Linked DNA regions of Homo sapiens: regions 1, 2, 3, 4 and 6 are each linked to region 5. The links come from fine-mapping of genetic effects on gene expression. A gene starts in region 5. Each other region holds a variant in brackets. All regions are shown on one strand. Distances are from middle to middle.

Region 1 (4,089 bases), 200 kb after region 5:
CTCTGATGAGCATACCAAGGACAGTGCTCCCAGTGAACATCACACATTGAATGAGAAAAGTGGGCAGCTAATTGCAAACAGTATTTGGGATTCTGTCATGAGAGATAAAGACATGTCATCATTCATGTTACCAGGCTCCTCACATATCACAGATTCAGAGCAAAGGGAATTGCCTCCTGAAATCCCCAGCCATTCAGCAAATGTTAAAGACACTCATTCCCCAGATGCGCCAGCAGCCTCTGGAACCAGTGAATCAGAGGCACTTATATCTCATCTTGACAAGCAGGACACAGAGAGGGAAACCCTGCAAAGTGATGCAGCATCCTTGGCGACTAGGCTTGAGAATCCAGGGTATTTTCCACACCCAGATCCATGGAAAGGTCATGGCGATGGACAAAGTGAAAGTGAGAAGGAAGCCCAGGGAGCCACTGACAGGGGGCACCTTGATGAAGAGGAGGTGATCGCCTCTGGTGTGGAGAATGCCTCAGGGATTTCTGAAAAAGGGCAGAGTGACCAGGAACTGTCTTCTCTGGTTGCATCTGAACATCAGGAAATCTGCATTAAATCAGGCAAAATCAGCTCTCTTGCTGTCACTTTCAGTCCTCAAACCGAGGAACCAGAGGAAGTTTTAGAGTATGAGGAGGGGTCTTACAATCTAGACTCCCGTGATGTGCAAACAGGGATGTCCGCAGATAACCTGCAGCCAAAAGATACCCATGAAAAACACCTCATGAGTCAAAGAAATTCAGGTGAAACTACTGAGACTTCAGATGGGATGAATTTCACAAAATATGTATCTGTACCTGAAAAGGATCTTGAGAAAACTGAAGAATGTAACTTTCTAGAGCCAGAGAACGTGGGTGGAGGGCCACCTCACAGAGTTCCCCGAAGTCTTGATTTTGGGGACGTCCCTATAGACAGTGATGTGCATGTCAGCAGCACATGTTCTGAGATAACCAAAAATCTTGACGTTAAGGGGTCTGAAAATAGCCTTCCAGGAGCCGGTTCGTCTGGAAATTTTGACAGAGATACTATTTCTAGTGAGTATACTCATTCAAGTGCATCAAGTCCTGAGTTAAATGACTCTTCAGTTGCACTGTCCTCCTGGGGCCAGCAACCCAGTTCTGGGTATCAAGAAGAAAACCAAGGCAACTGGAGTGAACAGAATCACCAAGAATCTGAACTAATTACCACTGATGGCCAAGTAGAAATAGTTACCAAAGTGAAGGATTTAGAGAAAAACAGAATAAATGAGTTTGAAAAGAGCTTTGATCGCAAAACTCCTACATTTTTAGAGATCTGGAATGACTCAGTTGATGGTGATTCCTTTTCCTCTTTATCCAGTCCTGAAACAGGCAAATATTCTGAACATTCAGGGACACATCAGGAAAGCAATCTAATTGCTAGCTACCAGGAGAAAAATGAACATGACATTTCTGCAACTGTGCAGCCAGAGGATGCCAGGGTCATTTCAACAAGCTCAGGTTCTGATGATGACAGTGTCGGTGGTGAAGAGTCAATAGAGGAAGAGATCCAGGTGGCCAACTGCCACGTTGCTGAGGATGAATCCAGAGCTTGGGATTCATTGAATGAATCTAATAAGTTCTTGGTCACAGCTGATCCTAAGTCTGAAAATATTTATGACTACCTAGACAGCTCAGAGCCAGCAGAGAATGAGAATAAGTCAAACCCATTCTGTGACAATCAACAAAGCAGCCCTGATCCCTGGACTTTCTCACCATTAAC[G/A]GAGACTGAAATGCAGATTACAGCAGTGGAGAAGGAGAAGAGATCTTCTCCAGAAACAGGGACAACAGGAGATGTTGCATGGCAAATATCTCCCAAAGCTTCGTTCCCAAAGAACGAAGATAATTCTCAACTGGAAATGCTGGGCTTCTCAGCTGATAGCACTGAGTGGTGGAAGGCCTCACCCCAGGAAGGGAGACTAATTGAAAGTCCATTTGAAAGGGAGCTGTCTGACTCCAGTGGTGTGTTGGAGATAAATTCTTCAGTACACCAAAATGCCAGTCCCTGGGGAGTACCAGTTCAGGGTGATATTGAGCCCGTGGAAACACACTATACTAATCCTTTTAGTGACAACCATCAGTCACCCTTTCTGGAAGGTAATGGGAAGAACTCCCATGAGCAACTCTGGAACATTCAACCAAGGCAGCCAGACCCAGATGCTGACAAGTTCAGCCAGCTTGTAAAATTAGACCAAATTAAAGAAAAGGACTCAAGAGAGCAAACCTTTGTGTCTGCTGCTGGTGATGAGCTGACTCCTGAAACACCTACCCAAGAGCAGTGTCAGGACACCATGCTGCCAGTCTGTGATCATCCGGACACAGCCTTTACTCACGCAGAGGAAAATAGTTGTGTTACATCTAATGTTTCAACTAATGAAGGTCAAGAAACAAATCAGTGGGAACAAGAAAAATCATACCTAGGTGAGATGACAAATTCAAGCATTGCCACAGAAAATTTTCCTGCTGTCAGTTCTCCCACCCAACTGATAATGAAGCCAGGCTCTGAATGGGATGGCTCTACCCCAAGTGAGGACTCCCGAGGTACCTTTGTGCCAGATATTTTACATGGCAACTTTCAAGAGGGTGGGCAGCTGGCCTCTGCCGCGCCTGACTTGTGGATAGATGCTAAGAAGCCCTTCAGTTTGAAAGCAGATGGTGAGAATCCTGATATCCTGACGCACTGCGAACATGACAGCAATTCTCAGGCTTCCGACAGCCCTGATATATGTCACGATTCTGAAGCAAAGCAAGAGACTGAGAAGCACCTCAGTGCTTGCATGGGACCTGAAGTGGAATCCAGTGAGCTTTGTCTCACTGAGCCAGAGATAGATGAAGAACCCATTTATGAGCCTGGACGGGAGTTTGTCCCATCCAATGCAGAACTCGATTCTGAAAACGCAACTGTGCTGCCTCCAATTGGCTATCAAGCAGACATAAAGGGCTCCTCTCAGCCCGCCTCTCATAAAGGTTCACCTGAACCTTCTGAAATAAACGGTGACAACAGTACAGGTTTACAAGTATCAGAAAAAGGAGCCAGCCCAGATATGGCACCAATTTTGGAACCAGTTGACAGAAGAATCCCAAGGATTGAAAATGTGGCAACTAGCATTTTTGTAACTCACCAAGAGCCAACTCCAGAAGGTGACGGTTCTTGGATATCAGACAGCTTTTCTCCTGAAAGTCAGCCTGGTGCAAGAGCTTTGTTTGATGGTGATCCACATTTATCCACAGAGAATCCTGCCTTGGTTCCTGATGCTTTGCTAGCCTCAGACACTTGTCTGGATATAAGCGAAGCTGCCTTTGACCACAGTTTCAGCGATGCCTCAGGTCTCAACACATCCACGGGAACAATAGATGACATGAGTAAACTGACATTATCCGAAGGCCATCCGGAAACGCCAGTTGATGGGGACCTAGGGAAGCAAGATATCTGCTCATCTGAAGCCTCGTGGGGTGATTTTGAATATGATGTAATGGGCCAGAATATCGATGAAGATTTACTGAGAGAGCCTGAACACTTCCTGTATGGTGGTGACCCTCCTTTGGAGGAAGATTCTCTGAAGCAGTCGCTGGCACCGTACACACCTCCCTTTGATTTGTCTTATCTCACAGAACCTGCCCAGAGTGCTGAAACAATAGAGGAAGCTGGGTCTCCAGAGGATGAATCTCTGGGATGCAGAGCAGCAGAGATAGTGCTTTCTGCACTTCCTGATCGAAGAAGTGAGGGAAACCAGGCTGAGACCAAAAACAGACTGCCTGGATCCCAGCTGGCTGTGCTGCATATTCGTGAAGACCCTGAGTCCGTTTATTTGCCGGTAGGAGCAGGCTCCAACATTTTGTCTCCATCAAACGTTGACTGGGAAGTAGAAACAGATAATTCTGATTTACCAGCAGGTGGAGACATAGGACCACCAAATGGTAAGAAACATTCCATTCTTCCACTTCCAAGAAACTGCTGCGTTGATTAAACTAGTGCATATTTGTAAGACACACTCTTCCTACCAATGAGGGTAGAGAGAAAACTAACTACATTTTCAAGGCATGCCTCACTAAGTCCTGTATTATA
Region 2 (4,089 bases), 270 kb after region 5:
ATTTAGGTCAGTCTTGCCCCCTCTCATTTTTTTGTGATGTCGAATATTTACACACCCTCTTCACAACTATGTACAACAATATAATCATCCGTAATATATAAATAGCCTACATATGCAAATATAATTGCCCTATATATTTAACACTCTATAAAACATAGATGTTAACCACTGAAAGATAACTATATGGGTATATACCTACAGACCTATAGTCAACATAATCCCCATTTCATGCTGCTAATATACCCACAAAGACACACTTGCCAAGGCTTCATATTTATCCATTAGGTCAGATATTACCTTGTTAAGAGCTTTCAATTGGTTACAAGTGTCTTTTTGTTTGTCCCCCAGGATACTATGGGGACGGTCTAAATGCCATCATTGTGTTTGCCGCCTGTTTTCTGCCAGACAGCAGTCGGGCGGATTACCACTATGTCATGGAAAATCTTTTCCTGTGAGTGATACTTATGACAAAGTGCTTTGAGTTAATGTCTGTGGCATGTAATGGCAGATAGAGCACCTTTAATTAAAGAAAATAGATGATGTAGAATGTTCTAAGCCTTCAGTGAAAAGTCAGTAAGGTTTCTGTCAAGGAATGTTGCTCAAGGGGCTAAAACCTTTAAAGGAGCTCTTTTGTGGGTAGACTAGACTGAAACCAAGATGAACAGAATTTTGCTTGCATTTTAAAATTCTGTAACATTTCCTTTGGGCAAAGTATTATTTTTGTTCCTTCATAACATGTTCTTAGTCAGCTAAGACTGACTATAACCTGACTTCATTAATATCTGCCCTTATTTAACCTGAGTTACCCTTAGTATTTGATAACATTGTTGACAGTTTTGAAAGTCAGGATTCTTTCTAACCCATACATTTTTCTAGTGTACCTCCATTTAAAAGATAGATAGCCATACCGATAAATGAGTAATACTCTCAGAGGAATGCTCTTAGGTAATTGTATTCTTCCCAAGGTAAAGAGGTAATATGCACAATCATTCTTAAATTTCATACACCCTGTACTTTTGATGTTATGTAATTATGGTGTCAATAGGATGTGGGAACTGAAAACATTCCTCTTCCTTCCTGTGATCAGATATGTAATAAGTACTTTAGAGTTGATGGTAGCTGAAGACTATATGATTGTGTACTTGAATGGTGCAACCCCAAGAAGGAGGATGCCAGGGCTAGGCTGGATGAAGAAATGCTACCAGATGATTGACAGACGGTATGTGGGCTCTATTATTTAATCACTATTTTGATTTTGGTAAACTGAAGACTAAACAACCACATGGTATACTGTTATTATCTTCATTATACACAAGAAGAAACCAAGTCTCAATAAGATCAAATAAATTGTCTAAGTTGCTATTAAGCATGTATTCTTTTCAAAATAGTAAAGGTAATACTGACGAGAATAAAAGCATCATTAAACAAAAATACACCATGTTGGTTATAGATTCATGCACTCTAAGAACACAACCATTCTATTTTACATTTACTTCTATGAGAAAATGACGTTTGAATCATACAAGTTTCAAATTACATCTCAAAAAGCATTCTTGTAATTAATCATGGCCATTCTATATCTTCCTACCAGGTAATAGTAACTTGCATAGAACTCCCTAAAATTATA[C/TAC]ACACACACACACACACACACACACACACACACACATTTTTGTTGTTGTCGTTGTTGTTGGAGTCTCACTCTGTTGCCTAGGCTGGAGTGCAGTGGCATGATCTTGGATCACGGCAACCTCCGCCTCCTGGGTTCAAGCGATTCTCCTGTCTAACCCACTGAGTAGCCAGGACTTACAGGCGGGCACCACCACGCCCAGCTAATTTTTTTATTTTTATTTTTATTTTTATTTTTAGTAGAGATGGGGTTTCAACATGTTGGCCAGGCCAGTCTCAAACTCCTGACCTCAGGTGATCTGCCTGCCTTGGCCTCCCAAAGTGCTGGGATTATAGGCATGAGCTACCATGCCAGACTTAAATTATATATATTCTTATTTAGGAATATGTTTTATGTTTTAATTCCCACTGAAAATGGGTTAAGAGTAATGTATTTTTTTTCTTTTTTCAAAATAGGTTGAGGAAGAATTTGAAATCATTCATCATTGTTCATCCATCTTGGTTCATCAGAACAATCCTTGCTGTGACACGACCTTTTATAAGGTACAGTTAATGTTGTCATAAAATAAAAGTACTACTAGTAGTTTTAAAAAATATGTACTCATTGTCCTAAAAACAAGAATTCATAAACTAAGAGTACCCAGGGAAATATATTTGTCTCTGTCTTTCCTAGAAAGGTGCTTTGGACTATTCATCAAGAATCCCGAATTAAGAGAGAAAATGCTGTCATGATGAATATTTCCCCCAGATCATTATAAAACAGGACCTCTAAATTGCTTGCTATAAACACGGAAGATGAAGTGGTGGGATTTTCATGCCACATTAGAAAGGAGAATAGATAATACATTTAAAGTGATATGCTATTATGTAGAGAATAGAAAGGTAGAGTAATATGACAATGGAAAGTAAAGATGAATCAAGGGCAGAAACAGAAGCCATATCATGTCTCAATTGTGCCATTTCTTCTGAATAGACCTACACAACGTTTATATAACTACCAAAGTTATATAGAGTCTGGGCAGCCATTTTGAGAGCTGTGTTTTGATCACCCCTGAGGAGTCTTGGTTTCAATTCAGTGAATATTTATTTGTCACTTATTTTATGTTAGGTTTTGCATAACCTTACATCTTAGGGATGCAAAGTAAAATAAGTTATGTTCATAATATAGTAAGACTTCAAATAGTTAAATGAAAGGGATAGTATTTACTTTCTAGATAGCTTTAAAAACAATAAAATTTGCCCACCATCAGGGTACAGATTAGATTAATTGAAATTTTCCCATCTCAAAGTTATTAATGAATTTCTTTTAAAAATTCTGATAACTTTGCTTCTGGGGAAAAAGATAAACTTTAAAATCTTTTTTTTGTGTGTACATAGATTTTACTGTAGCTTCCAAATTCTACCTTTCTTGTTAAGTATTTAGTTATATTTATTTATTATTCTTATTCCCCACTTCCAATTGCTAATGCTGAAAAATATACCTGAAAATCAAGAATTGTTAAAATGGTAAACTGAAGGCTAAACAATCACATGATATACTGTTATTATCTTCATTATACACAAGAAGAAACCACTGAAAAAACGAAGTTATCAGAATTTTTAGACGAAATTAATTAATAATTTTAAGATGGGAAAATTTCAATTTATCTTCAATTGAGTAGCAGGATTCACCCTAGTTTCCCTCTGGCAAAGATTAGCTGTTTACCATACTGTGTTAAATTGCTTTTAAAAATATTATGAGCAGCCAAGCGGGGTGGCTCACACCTGTAATCCCAGCAGTTTGGGAGGCCAAGGCGGGCAGATCACTTGAGGTCAGGAGTTTGAGACCAGCCTGGCCAACATGGTGAAACCCCATCTCTACTAAAAACACAAAAAATTAGCCAGGCATGGTGGTGGTGTGCCTATAGTCCCAGCTACTAGGGAGGCTGAGGCAGGAGAATCGCTTGAACCTGGGAGGAGGTTGCAGTGAGGCAAGATCACACCACTGCACTCCAGCCTGGGCAACAGAGTGAGACTGTGCCTCCAAAAAACAAACAAAAATATTAGACCTATTTAAGGTATACAAAGAGCCACTTATTTTAATATTTTCAGGAAATGTTGTAACTAGGGAGTAGGAATCAATGTATGCTGATAAGCTTTCAAAAAGTTTAATGGGTAGAAAGGTAAACATTAGCATAGTTACTGATTCATCGATGTTTGCTTAATAATTCAGCACTTATAAAACAAATGTTTTTTCTTGATTAAGTAATGTTAAAAGATAAACTTTAGACAAATCAATCAGTTTATTAGAGCAAAAAATGATTTATGAATCCAGCATGACTTAGAACCAGGAGAGGTTCAGAGAGCTCCTCCCAGCAAAGTGGGCAGACAGTATTTGTCCAGAGAAAAGCAAGGTGATGTATAGAAATAGCTTGATTGGGTACAGCTCAGCAGTTATCTTATTTGGGTACAGTGTGATGAAGCATT
Region 3 (4,089 bases), 210 kb after region 5:
CGTGAATGTTGAAAATGAGAAATAGATTTTAAAAATCAGTTGACTCTTTCTCTCAGTGTTGGATAATGGGAACCCTGAGAAACATCAGGCAGACCAAGCTGTACCCCAGTTCTGAACATTTGCCGTTTCTCAGAGGTGAGTTGATGCTCTCTAAACTCCAGTGCGCCCTTGCCTATTCACCATTTTTGGGCTTTGCCCTGTACCAAACCTGGAAGAACAAACTTAGCACTGACTCTGTGTTCATTTATTTTTGTAATTATATTTGATCTGTTGGTGTGGTATGTTGGTGAGTTGGTGGTGATAAGTATCATTAAAAGTCCTTTGCCGGGCACGGTGGCTCACGCCTGTAATCTCAGCACTTCGGGAGGCCAAAGCGGGTGGATCACCTGAGGTCACGAGTTTGAGACCAGCCTAGCCAACACGGCAAAACCCCGTCTGTACTAAAAATACAAAAATTAGCCAGGCATGGTGGCACACGCCTGTAATCCCAGCTACTCGGGAGGCTGAGGCAAGAGAATCGCTTGAACCCAGGAGGCGGAGGTTGCAGTGAGCCGAGATCACACCACTTCATTCCAGCCTGGGTGAAAGACCAAAACTTTGTCAAAAAAAAAAAAAAATCCTTTACATTTGCAGTTTAATTCAGGACTTAGTCTCTTTCCTTCATTTCCTTCTTCTCTCTTGCTTTCTCTCTCTGTCATGCCCTCCACCCACTTCTACATTTCTGGCCAGCCCTACCCAGAGCAGACTTTCCATAGTAAGTGCTTGCAGACTGACAAATAGATTATTTTCTTTGGTCCACCCAAATGACACTTGAGATAGACAGGGCAAGTGTTCCTCTCCCCATTTCCCAGCCAGATGAGCAAACTGACTTAACACATGAACTGCTTCATGTCATCCAGAAATGAGAAAGTGGTGAGGTTAGGACCTAAATTTAAGTCTTCTCTGTCTAGCCCAGTGGTTGTCAATGAAACACAGCTGCCCAAACAAGCATTTCTCTTGAGCTGCTTCTATAGGTTGATGTTTTCATTCCTGTTCTCCCGTTATCTCGTTGAAAGGCACATAAAGTGTAACAGGAGATATTTTGAGACAGACTGAGCCAGAACCCATGCCTGACTCCTCAGACTGTCTTGTGACCTACTGGGCTTTTTTGATACCTGAGTAAATATTTGCTCCCACGGTGGATCTGTGAGTGCTTGTGCCATGTCAGTGGGCTGCTCCCCATCTGTGGTGTGTGGGACCAACTCGAGTGGTTGGAGGCCAGAGGGAAGGGAGAGCATCAAAGCCCCTCAATGTTCATTTACGTTTTCCAAATATTTATAGGTGTGGTATTTTGTGGTGAGGGATTTTACAGCCAGAGAGAGCCACAAGTGCCAAGATGAGGTGGTGCAACTCTGTTTCCCCGTGGGAGGAACGCCCACAAAGGAGTCCATTTGTGTTGTATTGGCTTCTAGTTTGAGGAAAAACCCAAGGTGCTTCTCTGGCTGGAAACTTGAAACATCACAACTAGTGGCATTGCTTGCTTTAGGGGGAAAAAAATCTCTATGAAAATTGCTGGTATTTGAGGAAGACAAGAAGCCATGACTTTCGAAAGCAGGGTATATTCGCATATCAGGGGCACAGCAAGAAAGTGATGACACATTCAAATTAGGAAAATTTGAGAGATTTAATAAAGAGAGTATTTACGAAGATGGA[G/A]GCAAAGTGTGAGGAACTCACAAGGAATAGTGCGTAGCCCAAGAACAGGAGCAGTACGGCTGTTATTCTTCCTAGACCCCAGGAGTGGGGAGACAGAGTGATGACCAGAACCCAGAAAGACTATTTCAGGTAGAAAAGGCCACCCTGAAAGGCATAGTGACCTAGTGTGAGGGACACGGCCAGCGGGAGGCACTCCCGCCTCTTCCCCCGCATCTCCCACCAGGGATCCTCACTGGTCAAAACCTAGTGGAGGCTGGGCGTGGCGCCTCATGCCTGTAATCCCAGCATTTTGGGAGGCCAAGGCGGGCAGATCACTTGAGGTCAGGAGTTTGAGACCATCCTGGCCAACATGGAGAAACCCCGTCTCTACTAAAAATACAAAAATTAGCTGGGTGTGGTGGCGGGCACCTGTAGTCCCAGCTACTCGGGAGACTGAGGCATGAGAATGACTTGAACCTGGGTGGGGGAGGTTGCAGTGAGCCGAGATCATGCCATTGCACTCCAGCCTGGATAACAAACAAACAAACAAACAAAAAACCTAGTGGAAGTCGGAGGGTGAGGGAGGCTTGGGGCAGAAAGCAAAATGGAGAAAGTAGGAGAGTAGAGCTGACGAAGCAAACAGAAGCTGTTCAGTGCAGCTAGCCGAATTGGAGAGTGGTGGACCTCAGCCTCTGAAAACTGTCCTGAGATGTTCCTGTGCACGATTAGTTAACTGTTTCTCCAGTACATTGGAGGATCAGTTTCTGAGATCTATGTAAGAGTTCTTCAGGAACAAAGGCTATCAAAAAGTCAGTGCAGGATTGGGTAACCCTTTGTAGAAGTCCAAGCTGCCGGTTCTGAACCAGCAGGGAATACTTGCTGACGTCGGAGACATTTTGGTTGTCACAACTGGGGTGGGTACTGCTGTCATCTAATGGGCAGAGGCCAGGGATGCAGTTACATATCCTACAGTGCACAGGAGTGCCCCCCGCCACACAGGGTTATCCAGCCCCAAATGTCAACACTGCCAGTGTCGAGAACTCTGCTCCATCTCTCTGCCTTATTTTATTGCTACTACTTTTTTTTTTCCATCTGAAAAGATCTTCTATTTACTTATTTATTTAATTGATTCTGTTGCATCTGTCTCCACCTATGAGAGTATAACCCCCAAGAAAGCAGGAGTTTGGTTTGTCTTGTTCATCACGGTACCCCTGTTGCTTAGAATAGCACCTGCCACATGTTAGACACCCCATAAATAGGCCTGATTGAATGAATAGAAAAGAAAGGGTAGTTTGCTCAACATAATTTGCTTCTAATGACACTGTGATAATTTCTGGCATTTGTTGCTTCTTTTCCCAAGGGAGATGTGCTAGTTTTAGTTTGGAAGGAATATGCATCTTTCTTTTCTCAAGTTACCAAATCCATCTTTTTCCTTCTTTTGTAATTTGAGGCCATAGTTACCCATTTTCAGTGTTCCCATGCCTTTCTTGTTCATTACAGTTCCTCCAAGATTCTTTCAGCCTTTCAGTTTTCTTAGAGTTTTGTTAGTCACTCATCCTCATGGGGAGAAAATAGGTGTGTCTGTTCAATTTTCCTTCTTGGTCATCTGTTGCCTATACCATGGGTATTATAATCTCTTCACCTTGAAATAACTTCTCCTGGCTGGGCGCGCTGGCTTATGCCTGTAATCCCAGCACTTTGCAAGGCTGAGTCGGGCAGATCACGTGAGGTGAGGAGTTCGAGACCAGCCTGACCAACATGGTGAAATCCCATCTCTTCTAAAAATACAAAAAAATTAGCCAGGCGTGGTGGCACACACCTGTAATCCCAGCTACTTGGGAGGCTGAGGCAGGAGAATTGCTTGAACCTGGGAGATGGAGATCGCAGTGGGCTGAGATTGTACCACTGCACTTCAGCCCAGGTGAACGAGTGAGACCATCTCAAATAATAATAATAATAACTTTTTTTATTAGAGAGGAACATGGTTTTATTTAATTAGTCATCTATTATACCATCAACTCAAGCAGCTGTTGATAATATGTAATCTTCAAAGACCTTTTTATATTTATTTTTTAAACTTCCATTTATTAAATAATAATTTAAAAGTATTAATTAGGCTCTCAGAGAATAACTAAAACTCCACTGGAGAATTTGACATCTACGTGCCCTTTTTTTCAACATAATAGAATGCTATTTACTGCAGTTAAGCAGTAATTCTTATTTAAAAAAAATTTTTTTTAACTGCCTTTGTATAATGAATAAAATAATGCATTTCCTCAAATGCCCAGCATACTCTGAGTTAGGACTGTTTTGCCCTGGCACAATCTGTGAGAACATCTTGCAAGACAAAAAGGAGTATTACTGGTGATAACCTATGTCCCACATTTCCATTTAATGAAGTATTACTTAAAATGTTTT
Region 4 (4,089 bases), 240 kb after region 5:
CACAGCTTTGGTTGGCCCAGGTAGGAGAGTGAAGGAGATAGAATTTTTAGATGAGAAACTGGATGTTTTAAACTAGATTAGATTTTAGTAATTGAAAGTAACAAGATAGCATGATGTAGGGAAGGAAGATTCAGCATAGCACAGTTGGGAAAATCAGAGATCTGAGAAATTTTTAATTATTTCGTGTTTGCATGATCATCAAATTCAGACTGTTTTTGAAAACCCTCCAGTTTTGTTTTTGTATTTTTACAGTAAACATCTTTTTACATATATCTTGGTATATACCTGTGAGTATTCTGCACTATATATTCTTAGAACAGCTGGTCAAAGGCTATGTGTATTTAAAATTTTGATGACTACAACCAAAAACTGTACCTCAATTTATATTCCTTATAGAAACACATTTGGGTGTACCACTTGCACCAATATGAGAGCTTCACAGTTTTAAATATATATTCAACTTTAAGAAAATGAAATGTTATTTAAGTTGTTAGACTCTAGGACAGCGGTTGTCAAACCTCCCCCTACGCTACCCACCAAGCCCAATCCAGTCAGCCACCTATTTTTGTCCATAAAGTTTTATTGGAACACAGCCATACCTATGCATTTACATATTGTCTATAGCTACGTTTGTGCTAGGACAACAGAGCTCAGTTGTTGCCACAGAAACTGTAGAGCATGTAAAGCCCAACATATTCAGTATCTAGCCCTTCCAGAAACACTGTGCTGATTCCACCTCCAGAAAAGTCAAAGGCAACCCTCCCATGTCCTGCAGATTAGCAAATATAACTGCTGAGCAGCAGTTGAAGGAATATCTTATCTATGTGTGTTCCTGTGGTTCATATTTCTGGTGCCAGCTTGTCCAAGGCATTTGGATGACTTCACACTCTTGAACTACTTGGGGCAGGAAGTCAGACTGCAAGAGTGCAGCTTTGCATTGCACTGTGGGGAAGGGGACCCTTTGTGAGCTTATCTTATGGGCAGGAGGGTGGGGCAGGCAGGCAGTCTTCCCAAAGTGTAAATCCCAGGAGATGCTGAGCAGGTGAAATGGGGGCTGCAGATGGCAGGAGCCTATGCTGCCAGCCCAGCCAGTTCTGCTGCTCACTTGGGCGTCCTGCAGATGCTGGCATCCCTGGCATTGAAGATTGTCTCCAATTCTGAAGAAAAACAATGGTCTACTTTTCCCCCTTCCCTTCGGAAGAACCTCATTCTTTCAAATTCACTCCCAGTTGCTCCTAATATTATCAAAGAGCTTTTACTGTTGGAGGAGAGAGCACAATATGTGCCACACCAGAGAGTGACCGTTGCCTAATTGGGTTCACAGTGATGACTTCTTTGTAAAACACTCCCATAAGCATCACCTATATTTCTAAATTATGTTTTGACAAAAGCTAAACTTCTTATCAAAAGGAATTTGTTGGAAGAGAATTTTCTTTTTTTTTGTGACAGAGTTTCGCTCTTGTTGCCCAGGCTGGAGTGTAATGATGCGATCTTGGCTCACCCCAACCTCTGCTTCCTGGGTTCAAGTGATTCTCCTTTCTCAGCCTCCCAAGTACCCGGGATTACAGGCATGCACCACCACAGCCGGCTAATTTTGTATTTTTAATAGAGACAGGGTTTCTCCATGTTGGTCAGGCTGATCTCTGTAGGGTCCAGCCCCACAGGGTCAGTGGGTTTTTCTCCCTGTGTGCGGAGACGAGAGATTGCAGAAATAAAGACACAAGACAAAGAGATAAAAGAAAAGACAGCTGGGCCCGGGGGACCACTACCACCAAGACG[C/G]GGAGACTGGTAGTGGCCCTGAATGCAAGGCTGCACTGTTATTTATTGGATACAAGGCAAAAGGGGCAGGATAAGGAGTGTGAGTCATCTCCAATGATTGACAAGGTCACATGAGTCACGTGTCCACTGGACAGGGGGCCCTTCCCTGCCTGGCAGCCAAGGCAGAGAGAGAGGGAGAGAGAGAGGACAGCTTACGCCATTATTTCTGCATATCAGAGACTTTTAGTACTTTCACTAATTTTGCTACTGCTATCTAAAAGGCAGAGCCTGGTGTACAGGATGGAACATGAAAGCGGACTAGGAGCGTGGCCAATGAAGCACAGCATCACAGGGAGATGGTTAGGCCTCCGGATAACTGCGGGCAAGCCTGACTGATGTCAGGCCCTCCACAAGAGGTGGAGGAGTAGAGTCTTCTCTAAACTTCCCCGGGGAAAGAGAGACTCCCTTTCCAGGTCTGCTAAGTAGCGGGTGTTTTCCCTTGGCACTGACACTACCGCTAGACCACGGTCCGCTTGGCAACGGGTGTCTTCCAAGGCCCTGGCATTACCGCTAGACCAAGGAGCCCTCTGGTGGCCCTGTCCGGGCATAACAGAAGGCTCACACTCTTGTCTTCTGGTCACTTCTCACTATGTCCCCTCAGCTCCTATCACTGTATGGCCTGGTTTTTCCTAGGTTATGATTATAGAGTGAAGATTCTTATAATATTGGAATAAAGAGTAATTGCTACGAACTAATGATTAATGATATTCATATATAATCATGTCTATGATCTAGATCTAGTATAATTCTTGTTGTTTTATATATTTTATTATACTGAAACAGCTCGTGCCCTCAGTCTTTTGCCTTGGCACCTAGGTGGCTTGCCGCCCACAGATCTCGAACTCCTGACCTCAGGTGATCTGCCCACCTCAGCCTCCCAAAGTGCAGGGATTACAGGTGTGAGCCACCACGCCTGGCCTGGAAGATAATTTTTATGGTCAAGTTTCACTATGTGGTGAGACATTCTGAGGAGCACTTTACCCAAAGGGCAGGGCACCTTCACGTGTCTAAATCTGTGTTGTTCAATAGTGACTCATTCATCTCCACCATGTGCTGAGCCCTGTGCTAAGCACTGGGTGTGCTTGTCCCCCAGGAGATTCATGTGTGTGTGGAGAGGGTGGCAGTGGGGAGGAGTGGGGGCAGACACATTTCAAACAGGAAATCATAGGAACATGGCAGCATCCACGTGAGGTAAGCACAGGGTGCTATGGGACATGACCCGACTCTGTGGGGAGGAGGTGAGGTCCCAGGTCCCCACTCTGTGGGATGGAGGTGAGGTCCCAGGACCTTACTCTGTGGGGTGGAGGTGAGGTCCCAGATCCCGATTCTGTGGGATGGAGGCGAGGTTCCAGGATGGAGATGTCCACACTGAGTAGTACAGGACAGCAAGATTGGCAAGGCTAAGTGGGGAGTGGGGAATGAGAAAGGAGGCTTGAGTCTGGGCTTAGGGGCCAGGTCAAGAGGGCCTTGTGAGCCCTTCTCTGAAGCCAAATTCTTTCCCTGAAGTGGTGAATTGAAAGGATTTAAACACAAGAAGGTGGTGTCAAGGTTAAGATGAAGAAGGATATTAGTTATAATTTGGAGGAGGTAGGGATGACGATCGTAAACAGAAAGGTGGTGATGTTTCTGCATGAAAAAAATGAACTTGAACTAAGGCTTTTGTAGTGAGAATGGAGTGGAGAGGATGACATAAATTTATAGGATTGGATGGCCAACTGGATGAGGAAGAAATGGTGGGAAAGAAAAGAAAGTAAGAGTGAATGCCAGTTTGGGAGCTTGAGTGCCCAGGTGATATGTAGAGACATTCACTAGGATGAGGAATGTATTAGTTAGCTATTGCTGTATAATAAATAATCTCGGCCAGGTGCAATGGCTCATGCCTGTAATCCCAGCACTTTGGGAGGCCGAAGTGGGAGGATCACTTGAGCCTGGGAGTTGGAGACCAGCCTGACCAACATGGTGAAACCCCATCTCTCCTAAAAATTAGCTCGGCATGGTGGTGCACGTCTGTAATCCCAGCTACTCGGGAGGCTGAGGCAGGAGAATCACTTGAACGCAGGAGATGGAGACTGGAGTGAGCCGAGATCGCTCCATTGCGCTCCAGCCTGGGCAATACAGCAAGACCCTGTCTCAAAAAATAAATGAATAAAATAAATAATATCAAAGTTTAGCAGCTTAAAACAACAAACATTGATTATTTCCCAGTGTTTGTAATAGGAATTCAAGAGTGTATTAGCTAGATGGTTCTGGCTTAAGGTATCTTGTTAAGTT
Region 5 (4,089 bases):
CATATACACACAGAGACAGACAAGAAAACAGACACACATTGAGACAGGAGAAATAGAGCAAAAAAAAAAAAAACCCTTCCATATGTACCTTTTTTCATTAAAACATATTTATTGAGGACCTGTATATGACATGAACATACATCATGTTAGGGTTCCATCAGTGAATGAGACAGGCAAGGTCCCTGTCTTTACAGAGCTCACAGCCTGGTGGAGGACATAGACAAATAATTATGCAATTTATAGCAGAGTGGAAAATGTAAGTTGCTATGAGGGAATACAGAAGGGGCAACCAACTCAGTCTGGGGATGGGAAGGGAAAAGTGTGTTGGGGAGGCTTTCTGGAGAAAGAGAACTTCTACGCCACTCACTGTCAAAGTGTGGTTTTTGGATCAGCAGCATCGGCAAACCCTGGGAGATTGTATACATGGACATTCTCAGGCCCATTAAGCCACACCTATTAGGGCTAAAATTCTAAGGATGGGGCACGGAAATCTGTGTTTCATCAAGCCCTCTAAGTGATTTAGATACATGTAAAGTTCATCGAGAATCAGAGCATCACACCTGAACTGCACATTAGAATCACTTGGGTCACTTTCCACAGAAATGCTGTGGCCCCATGCCCAGAGATATTAATTTAATTGGACTGGGATAAAGCCCTGGTATCAGTACTTTCTCAAGTCTCAGGTGATTACGATGTGATTTTACTGTGCAGTCAGGGTTGAGGCTACTTCTGTAGAACAGCTGAGGCTGGGGGCTAGGACAAGGGCTGGAAGGATCTTACAGGTGGTGTGCAAAAGCCCAGAGGTCAGAGAAAGCCTGATGTAGTGTGTTTGGGGACCGGACAAGGCTACATACAACAAAACCCCATGATTTAAAATAAGGTTTGTAGATATAAGTTCATTTGTTCATTGTAGTACTTCTTAAACTTTAACAAGCATAGAAATCATCTGAGGGTCTCATAGAAACACACAGATTCTGATTTGGTAAGTAGGAGCAGGGGACTGAGGTTCTGCATTTCTATAAGATCAGCGATGCTGATGTTGCCGGTCTGCAGACTGCACCTCACCTTAGCAAGGTTCTATTGCCCCAGCTTTCCCTGAGGGTACATGTCAGTGGATGGGAACTGCAGAAGGATGTATCTATGCATTAGTCCCAGGGCTGACATAAGGGCACCTAGTTGGGGTGAACTGTGGATGCCCATTGTTGTGTGGACATGTTTTCATGGTAGGGAGGAAAGACGCAGCCTCGCCCAACCTCCTAGCCTGCTCTTCTGATTATTATCCATCAAGGTCGTACTGCTTTTAGCTCAGCAGTAACTCCCCTCTTTCTCTCCTCGTCCCTCCCACGCCAATCTAGCTGAGTGCCTCCCCCGGCCAGGCCAGCCGACCAGATCATTAAGTGACCGCCGGAGTGCTCCGTAACGCGCCAGCCAGCCAGTGAGGCGCTGGGCGAGGCGGGGGCTCTCCTGGGACCCGTCTCCCTCTTCCCACCTTCCCCCGCTGACCGCGGCGGTGCCTGCGGCAGAGCCTCCCTCTGCAGCAGCCCCTTGCACTTGGCTCGCACTTCTGGGCGCTGTCCATGGTTGCAGCAGCTTTCGGCGCGCCACGTCAGGAGGCCGCAGCACGGCCCTGCGATTGGCGGAGGAGCCCCTCGCCATACCCCTGCACCTCCGCCCACGCGCCACGGCGCCCGAGGCGCGTGCCAGAGAGCGTGCCCGGCGCGCCCCGGGGCTCCTGGGCGGCACACCCACTTTCCTTATTAGGGCAGAGTCGGGTGCCCAGAGCCGGCGGCCGGGCGAGGGGTGGGGCGGGGAGCCCTGGGCGAGACGGTCGAGGGCGCAAGCACAGCCTCCGCCGCAGCCGCCTCAGAGCGGCAGGAGGGAGCAGTCGGTCGCTGCGCCCCGGCGGGCCACTTTCCCGGGACCCCGCTCGTCTTCCTTGGGCCGAGATTTTCCACTGCGCCCCTCCGAGTACCCGGGTTCCAAACCCCTAGCCACGACATGGAAGAATTTTTGCAACGCGCCAAATCTAAACTGGTAAGTTGAGTGAGCAAAGCTGTGTGTGTGCGCGCGCGCGTATGCTAATGGAAAGGTGGAGAGGAAAAGGTGTTGCAGCAGAGGAGGAAGAAACAACTTTGCCACGGAGTTATCAGGGTGTGCGGGTTGTCTCCTGGAAGAAATCTCAGGAACTCTGGCTCTTAAAGCTGGCAATCTGTCTCCAGAATCCTCCACCGCAACCAGACGAGGTGCAGAGCTGAAGGAGGTTGTGGCCTGGCTGAAGTTGGGTCGCTTCAGTCCAGCTTCGGTCCCTAAATCAGCAGTTTGCTCCTGAAAGCTAAGGGATAAATGGGTGTGGTCTTCCTTGAGATAAAGAGCCCAGCCTTCTGCAGATGCATTACGTGTAAGTGTAAAAGGAAAAAAAGAGACCCTTAGAACTGTACTTCAGCTGGAGGTGACAAAAGTGAGGAAGTCAGGGTGCTGGGTAGCAAGGACATGTGTGGTACTGGAGAATCCACAGAATAGAGCTTGCTCCACTGCAGGAGTTAGGGATATTCTAGTGTGTCTTGTGTCTCGCTAATTCCTGTTCACATCTGTAAATTGGGGCGGAGGCAGAAGGGGAAAGCTCTAACTGTTGGTGTTCTGGAGTTTACCAGATCATCGTTCTCCCGGGAGCAGACCTGTGTGTTAGCCCATGTTTACCATATCACTGTCCAAACAGTGAATGGGCAACTCCACTGTGTATGTTAACAGTTGCTACACATTCTGAAACAACAGACTCTAGCAGTTTCTTAATTCCAAACTGTTTTGGCTCTCCAGCACAGCAGTAATAAACATAATGGAAATGTTTCTGTTTTGGCAGAAAAAAAAAGAAAAGCCTGTACTCATTTAGAAGCAATATCTTTAAAGAACTGTAAAAGCACCTTTTACAGGCCTGGCATAGAAAGAAATGCATAATTTATGATGCCTTTAACCTTTAAGCCTTCATAGAAGCCAAAATGTAAAGTCTGCATTAAGGTAATGTTTTAATCACAAGGCAGGATATTTGCAGGGTTATTACTGTAACTCATTTACCCTCGCACAACAAAGGGAGTGCAGGAAGGGAGGGCCCAAAGATGCCTGAACCACCATTCAGAGTGCAGACGGAAGTGTGATCCTTACAATGGTCTAACTGTAACTATCTTGTAAAAGACCATTAAAGTTGATAAGTGCTTATATAAAACTTTCTACCTGAAACCTCCCAGAGAGTTGAACGTTTGTGGAGATTTCCGAGTTGAGGAAGTTTGTGATCATCTCTGTGTTTATTGACCCTTTTATAGTTTTACTAGAGCACATGGATGAAAATACTAATTTCAGAAACTCAAGTAAGTATTTGGCATTTCTGATAGTATAAGTACATGTTCTGTTCTTTACCTAGTAATGAAGGAGAAATGTTCAAAAATGAAAGACAATTTTGGCAACTGTGCGTGTGTGTGTATGAAAATGGTAATCAATGACAAACACAGAGTTCTGGGCTGTATCTGTTTTTCACTCCCATAACATTTATTTATCAATATTTTCACAATAAACATTTAGACTGTGGGGTCTGATATGAGCAAGAGGTTTGTCTCAATTCTGAGGAGCAGTTGCTGGAATGGAAGTTTCCCTATTTCCGAGTAATGAGTTGAAAGTAATCTGTAATTTATTTACCCTTCATTAGACGAGCAATTGCTCTACATCATTAAAAAAAAAAGGACAGGAAAGAGAAGCGGTTGTTTGAAATATTGTTACCAGTTTCATGTCTTAGCCAGAACAATTACTGCTAATTTTATCGTTTCTTGGAATAAGCTTCTTCTAGAAATCATGATTAACCTTTCACATCCAGCCACAGCAAAGGTGTGTTGGTCACTTTTAGTGTCATATTTTCCTGAGAAGTTACATTTTCTAGGTAATAAGATTTTTACTTAATGTATGACACTCAAATATAGTAGTAGATAACATTCTCCTTTAGAGGGTAGATAACCTTTTTCTTGGAGAAAAAGAATTAAGTCAATGTCATTCACTTGTGGGAAATTTATTTATAATAAAAAGGTAAGATTTGGCCGGGTGTGGTGG
Region 6 (4,089 bases), 180 kb after region 5:
ACAAAAATTAGCCAAGCATGGTGGCTTGCACCTGTAGTCCCAGTTACTCGGGGAGGCTGAGGTGGAAGGATCACTTGAACCTGGGGGCAGAGGTTACAGTGAACCGAAATCACCCCACTGCACTCCAGCCTGGGTGACAAAGTGAGACCCTGTTTCAAAAAAAAAAAAAAAAAAAAAAGCCCTGTTTACCCATAACTAAGTTGGAATAATAGTACAACTTTGCTTGACAAAAAAAAAAAAAAAGAAGAAGAAGAAGAAAGAAACAACTCTGGAAAATACCTGGGTAAACTTCATTTTCCTGGAATAGGAAGTAGATGTTTTATAAAATCTTGGCTCTTTTAAACCATCCTGCTGTTTTCTTTGTTTAAGAGAATCGAAGCTTGGTTTCATTTATAAGCACAGCAATCTAAACTAAAAGACAATTGATGGAAAGATGTTATTTTTACTGGCTTCGAAAAAGGAAATATTTGGCCAATTAATAAAAAGTATTCATGTAGATGCTCCCCATCCCTGATTTACTTTTCTAGTTCTCCTGCCTGTTAAACCAGGCAGAATTAACCATGTGTCTTGCTTTATGTAGTAAGATTTCTGAAACAGTTGAGTGTGACTTGAATTATTTTGTAAGCTCCTAAGAGTCTCCTGCTGTTTTTCTCTAAAGCAGTGGTTCTTAACTGGGGTGATTTTGCCCCACAGGGGACATATTTAGTTGTCATAACTAGGGCAGGGAGCTTGCTACTGGCATCTAGTGGGTCAAGGCCAGATATGCTATAAACACCCTATAAGGTACAAGACAGCCCCCACAGCAAAGAACTGTCCAGCCCCAAATGTCAGTAGTGCCAAGGTTGAGAAACCCTGGTCTAAAGTTATTACTTTTTATCTGTTACGAATTTAGGTTTTTTTCTGTATTTGGCTTGCTTAGAGCCCTTCTATAAATCACTCTTGTATAAAATAATGACAATTAAATTACTACTCTTGTTCCACCAGAGTGAGCCCAGGTATTCTCTGCCTGGAAGGCTGGGCCTGTAGAACATTTCAAATTTGTATTTAAAGCATTTTAATGCCTCATAGATGGTACTAATAGCAATGGAAGTTTGACAGTTATAGTGGAGATTTGAGCTTCTGAAGACTTCAAGGGCCAAAAAGAGAAACACCCTCATGTTGACCTGAAAGAATAAAGATTAAGGAGGCTTGACTGCTTTTTCCTGGATTGTTTAAATAGTACAATGTATTTTCAATTGATTCAGCATAATTTTCATTCTCTAAGCTTAACGCTTTTATAGATTTATCACTCCTCTTTTTAATACCCTCCTTAATTGGAGCGTAAAATAAAAATTAACATGAAAATAAAAGTTAACTAAATTGTCTCACTAAACTTATCTTTCCAAGCATCATGATTCTCCCTACAACTAGGCTTGGTTGGTTGGAACTAAAATGGGGCTTTGGGAAAGTATCTGATGAGTGTGCATGTGTGTGTTAGAATGTATGTGCGTGTGCCTGTGTATGCGTGTTACACCTTCGTGCTTGATGTCTAAAGTGCCCACCTATGGGCTTATCTGCTCAGCATCCCTCTTCTAGGAAGTGACTCTTACCCACCAACTTTGTTATAACTGGTGTGGTGTCTGTGATTTGTGGTCTTTCCAATCTACCTCAATTGTTTTGCCCAGAGATAGGCACCGAACCCAAGTGGGAACAACCAGAGTTCTTTCTCCAGGGTTTTCAAACTCATGACCAAAAGGGAGTCGTGACTCATTTGGCAAGGTCTACACAGAGATGCTGCAGCCACCTGTGGTTCCCACCGTGTAGAGGATGCCAGTTGGCTGCAGGACAGCAGAATGCAGCCAGAAGAGGATGGAGAGGCAGGACGACCTGCATATCCCTGGCAACCCCTGCCCTTCTCCCAGCG[C/T]GTGCTCAGGCTCTTCTTGGCTTCTGTGGGAACACTCCCCAGATCCTGCTGACTTCTTTCTCTACTTAAATCAGTTACAGTTAAGTTTCTGTGACTTGTGACTGAGACAGTCATGACAGCAGCATCCTTACCTGAAGAGGGATTCCTCCAGCTTCTCAAACACAGCCATCTCCAAACAAAAGTAAAACCACAAACCCCAGAGTGTATCTGTTTTCAGGAGGGGGTTTCTGGTAATTAGCTTAGACTGCAACAAATGGTACACACAGACTGCTGGCTCTGCATGTGTGCTCCAAGATTGGTGTTTACCCTATATATGCCAATTTAAGAATGTCATAAAGTTTATCAGTGAGCAAATGGAAATGAGCAAGAACACATAGATGGGTGGTGAAAGGTGTGTGCCTTGATAGATAGATTTTTTTTTTAGACTTCAAAAAAAACTAATTACTTTCATTGGGTTGATAGCAAAGGGGGCACAACCATATTCCCCACTTAAGCTTGGCGATGGTTGGGTATTTTTAGCAAATGAGTTGTCAGCAGAGAGGCTTCATTAGACCCATCAGGATATCTGCCCATGAAGAACGAATCCCAAACTGTACTGACACTTTCATTGAGCCAAAATGATGAAGCACCTCTGACAAGAGCCATATTGTGCTCCCCATGCAAGGAGCGTGAGGAACAAAAGAGACAGTTTGATCTTCATTTGGTCAGGTTAATATTGACACAGCTTAGAAAAATCAGAAGTGTGTGCAATGCACACGTGCAGAAAGTGCTCTGGAGACTTGCCTTGTGGTTTCCATAAATCAGAAAGGGGAACCCAGAGAGGAAAAAAGGTTTTCCTGCTTTCTTGAAATTGGGTTCAAACTAGATGATTTATTTTTACAAAGGAAAATAAAGCTGTCAGTGTTCAGGCTCATGGCTCAAAACAAGCCAACAGGGACTTTTTTTTTAATCTATACATAATTATAGAAATCATTCATTATTATTATTTTTATCTGGGAGCTAGAGTGTAGCCCAGGTTCTACCATTTCAAAAATAGAGCATGGCTAATGAGCGGGGTTTCATTACATGTGTGTCCTGAATTATTCGTTCCCGTATAGAAATCCTTATAAACATACAGAAACAAAAAGGGGCCCTTAAAGGAAACAGCAGTCTAGCCCTTTCCTTGCCAAGCACTTAAGTCCATCCAATAGAGGAAAGTTTTCCTGATTATGGGTCTGTCCTTAAAGAAAATGTAAATTAGGCTGTTAGTTAATGAGGTGATGACTTATTTGTCTTTGATTGGTTGTGAAACTCCCCCATTCAAGTATTCAATCTATTATTAACTGCTTGTAAGAGTGCCTGGGACTACTTTTATTCCAGGCCCAACTCTCTGTCTGTGTAACAACAGTGCTTCTTTATGGAAGATAGGATGGGATGGAAAAAGATGGGAAAGAATTTTAACTCCCTTATTTGAGGTGTGCCTGAAATCAGCCCACTTCATTTCAAGAAGTTCTTTTTGTGTGTGTCTGTGTGACAGGGTCTTGCTCTGTCACCCAGGTTGGAGTGCAGTGATGGGATCTCCGCTCACTGCAACCTCCACCCCCACCCAGGCTCAACCAATCCTCCCATCCCAGCCTCCCCAGTAGCTGGGACCACAGGCATGCACCACCATGCCTGGCTATTTTTTTTTTTTTTTTTTTTTTGTATTTCTATCAGAGACAGGTCTCACCATGTTGCCCAAGCTGGTCTCGACCTTCTGAGCTCAAGTGATCTGCCCGCCTCAGCCTCCCAAAGTGCTGCGATTATAAGCATGAGCCACCGCACCCAGCCTGATTTCAAGGAGTTCTTAACCTGTGCTTTCAGATGAATTATCTCCCAAACATTTTCTCTCTCCCTTCATTAATGATATGCTGGCCGGGTGCGGTGGCTCACGCCTGTAATCCCAGCACTTTGGGAGGCTGAGGCGGGCAGATCACAAGGTCAGGAGATCGAGACCATGGTGAAACCTCATCTCTACTAAAAATACAAAAAGTTAGCCGAGCGTGGTAGCAGGCGCCTGTAGTCCCAGCTACTCGGGAGGCTGAGGCAGGAGAAGGGCGTGAACCCAGAAGGCGGAGCTTGCAGTGAGCCGAGATCGCACCACTGCACCCCAGCCTGGGCGACAGAGCGATACTCCATCTCAAAAAAAAAAAAAAAGAAAGATATGC

Alleles and levels. Positions count from the first base shown, and alleles are read on the strand shown. Sizes are in standard deviations (SD) of each study's normalised expression. Not every link is listed here.
As copies of G replace A in region 1, the expression in T cells of the gene that starts at base 1,848 in region 5 goes up (large effect, 0.90 SD a copy in GENCORD).
For the expression in B cells of the gene that starts at base 1,848 in region 5, allele C in region 2 goes with a lower level than allele TAC (moderate effect, 0.59 SD a copy in Fairfax 2012).

The links. PIP is the estimated chance that this variant, and not a neighbour inherited with it, causes the effect. A credible set is the group of variants that fine-mapping cannot tell apart.
Region 1: its variant is the best candidate, but not a certain one, in a credible set for the expression of PRUNE2 in T cells (GENCORD, PIP 0.51).
Region 2: its variant is the best candidate, but not a certain one, in a credible set for the expression of PRUNE2 in B cells (Fairfax 2012, PIP 0.63).
Region 3: its variant is the best candidate, but not a certain one, in a credible set for the expression of PRUNE2 in whole blood (INTERVAL, PIP 0.88).
Region 4: its variant is the best candidate, but not a certain one, in a credible set for the expression of PRUNE2 in testis (GTEx, PIP 0.86).
Region 6: its variant is the best candidate, but not a certain one, in a credible set for the expression of PRUNE2 in cerebellum (GTEx, PIP 0.54).

The regions. Positions count from the first base shown.
Region 1 is chr9:76,704,613-76,708,701 of GRCh38, reverse strand. PRUNE2 (prune homolog 2 with BCH domain) reads left to right here. Exons shown (of 19, transcript NM_015225.3): 8 at 1-3,941. Among named protein-coding and RNA genes, the nearest start is that of PCA3, 58 kb to the left of the region's middle. The variant G/A (reference allele first, on the strand shown) is at 1,747.
Region 2 is chr9:76,634,548-76,638,636 of GRCh38, reverse strand. It overlaps PRUNE2 (prune homolog 2 with BCH domain), which reads left to right. Exons shown (of 19, transcript NM_015225.3): 13 at 349-451; 14 at 1,088-1,219; 15 at 2,080-2,166. All of the region lies in intron 6 of LOC105376095 (a long non-coding RNA gene), which reads right to left. Among named protein-coding and RNA genes, the nearest start is that of PCA3, 130 kb to the left of the region's middle. The variant C/TAC (reference allele first, on the strand shown) is at 1,628.
Region 3 is chr9:76,694,580-76,698,668 of GRCh38, reverse strand. The region is part of intron 9 of PRUNE2 (prune homolog 2 with BCH domain); the gene reads left to right. Among named protein-coding and RNA genes, the nearest start is that of PCA3, 68 kb to the left of the region's middle. The variant G/A (reference allele first, on the strand shown) is at 1,693.
Region 4 is chr9:76,664,400-76,668,488 of GRCh38, reverse strand. The region is part of intron 9 of PRUNE2 (prune homolog 2 with BCH domain); the gene reads left to right. It overlaps LOC105376095 (a long non-coding RNA gene), which reads right to left. Exons shown (of 12, transcript XR_007061586.1): 12 at 3,950-4,089. Among named protein-coding and RNA genes, the nearest start is that of PCA3, 98 kb to the left of the region's middle. The variant C/G (reference allele first, on the strand shown) is at 1,780.
Region 5 is chr9:76,903,873-76,907,961 of GRCh38, reverse strand. PRUNE2 (prune homolog 2 with BCH domain) reads left to right here and starts at 1,848. Exons shown (of 19, transcript NM_015225.3): 1 at 1,848-2,034. The coding sequence starts at 1,999. RefSeq lists a silencer at 1,719-1,778.
Region 6 is chr9:76,723,800-76,727,888 of GRCh38, reverse strand. All of the region lies in intron 6 of PRUNE2 (prune homolog 2 with BCH domain), which reads left to right. Among named protein-coding and RNA genes, the nearest start is that of PCA3, 39 kb to the left of the region's middle. The variant C/T (reference allele first, on the strand shown) is at 1,904.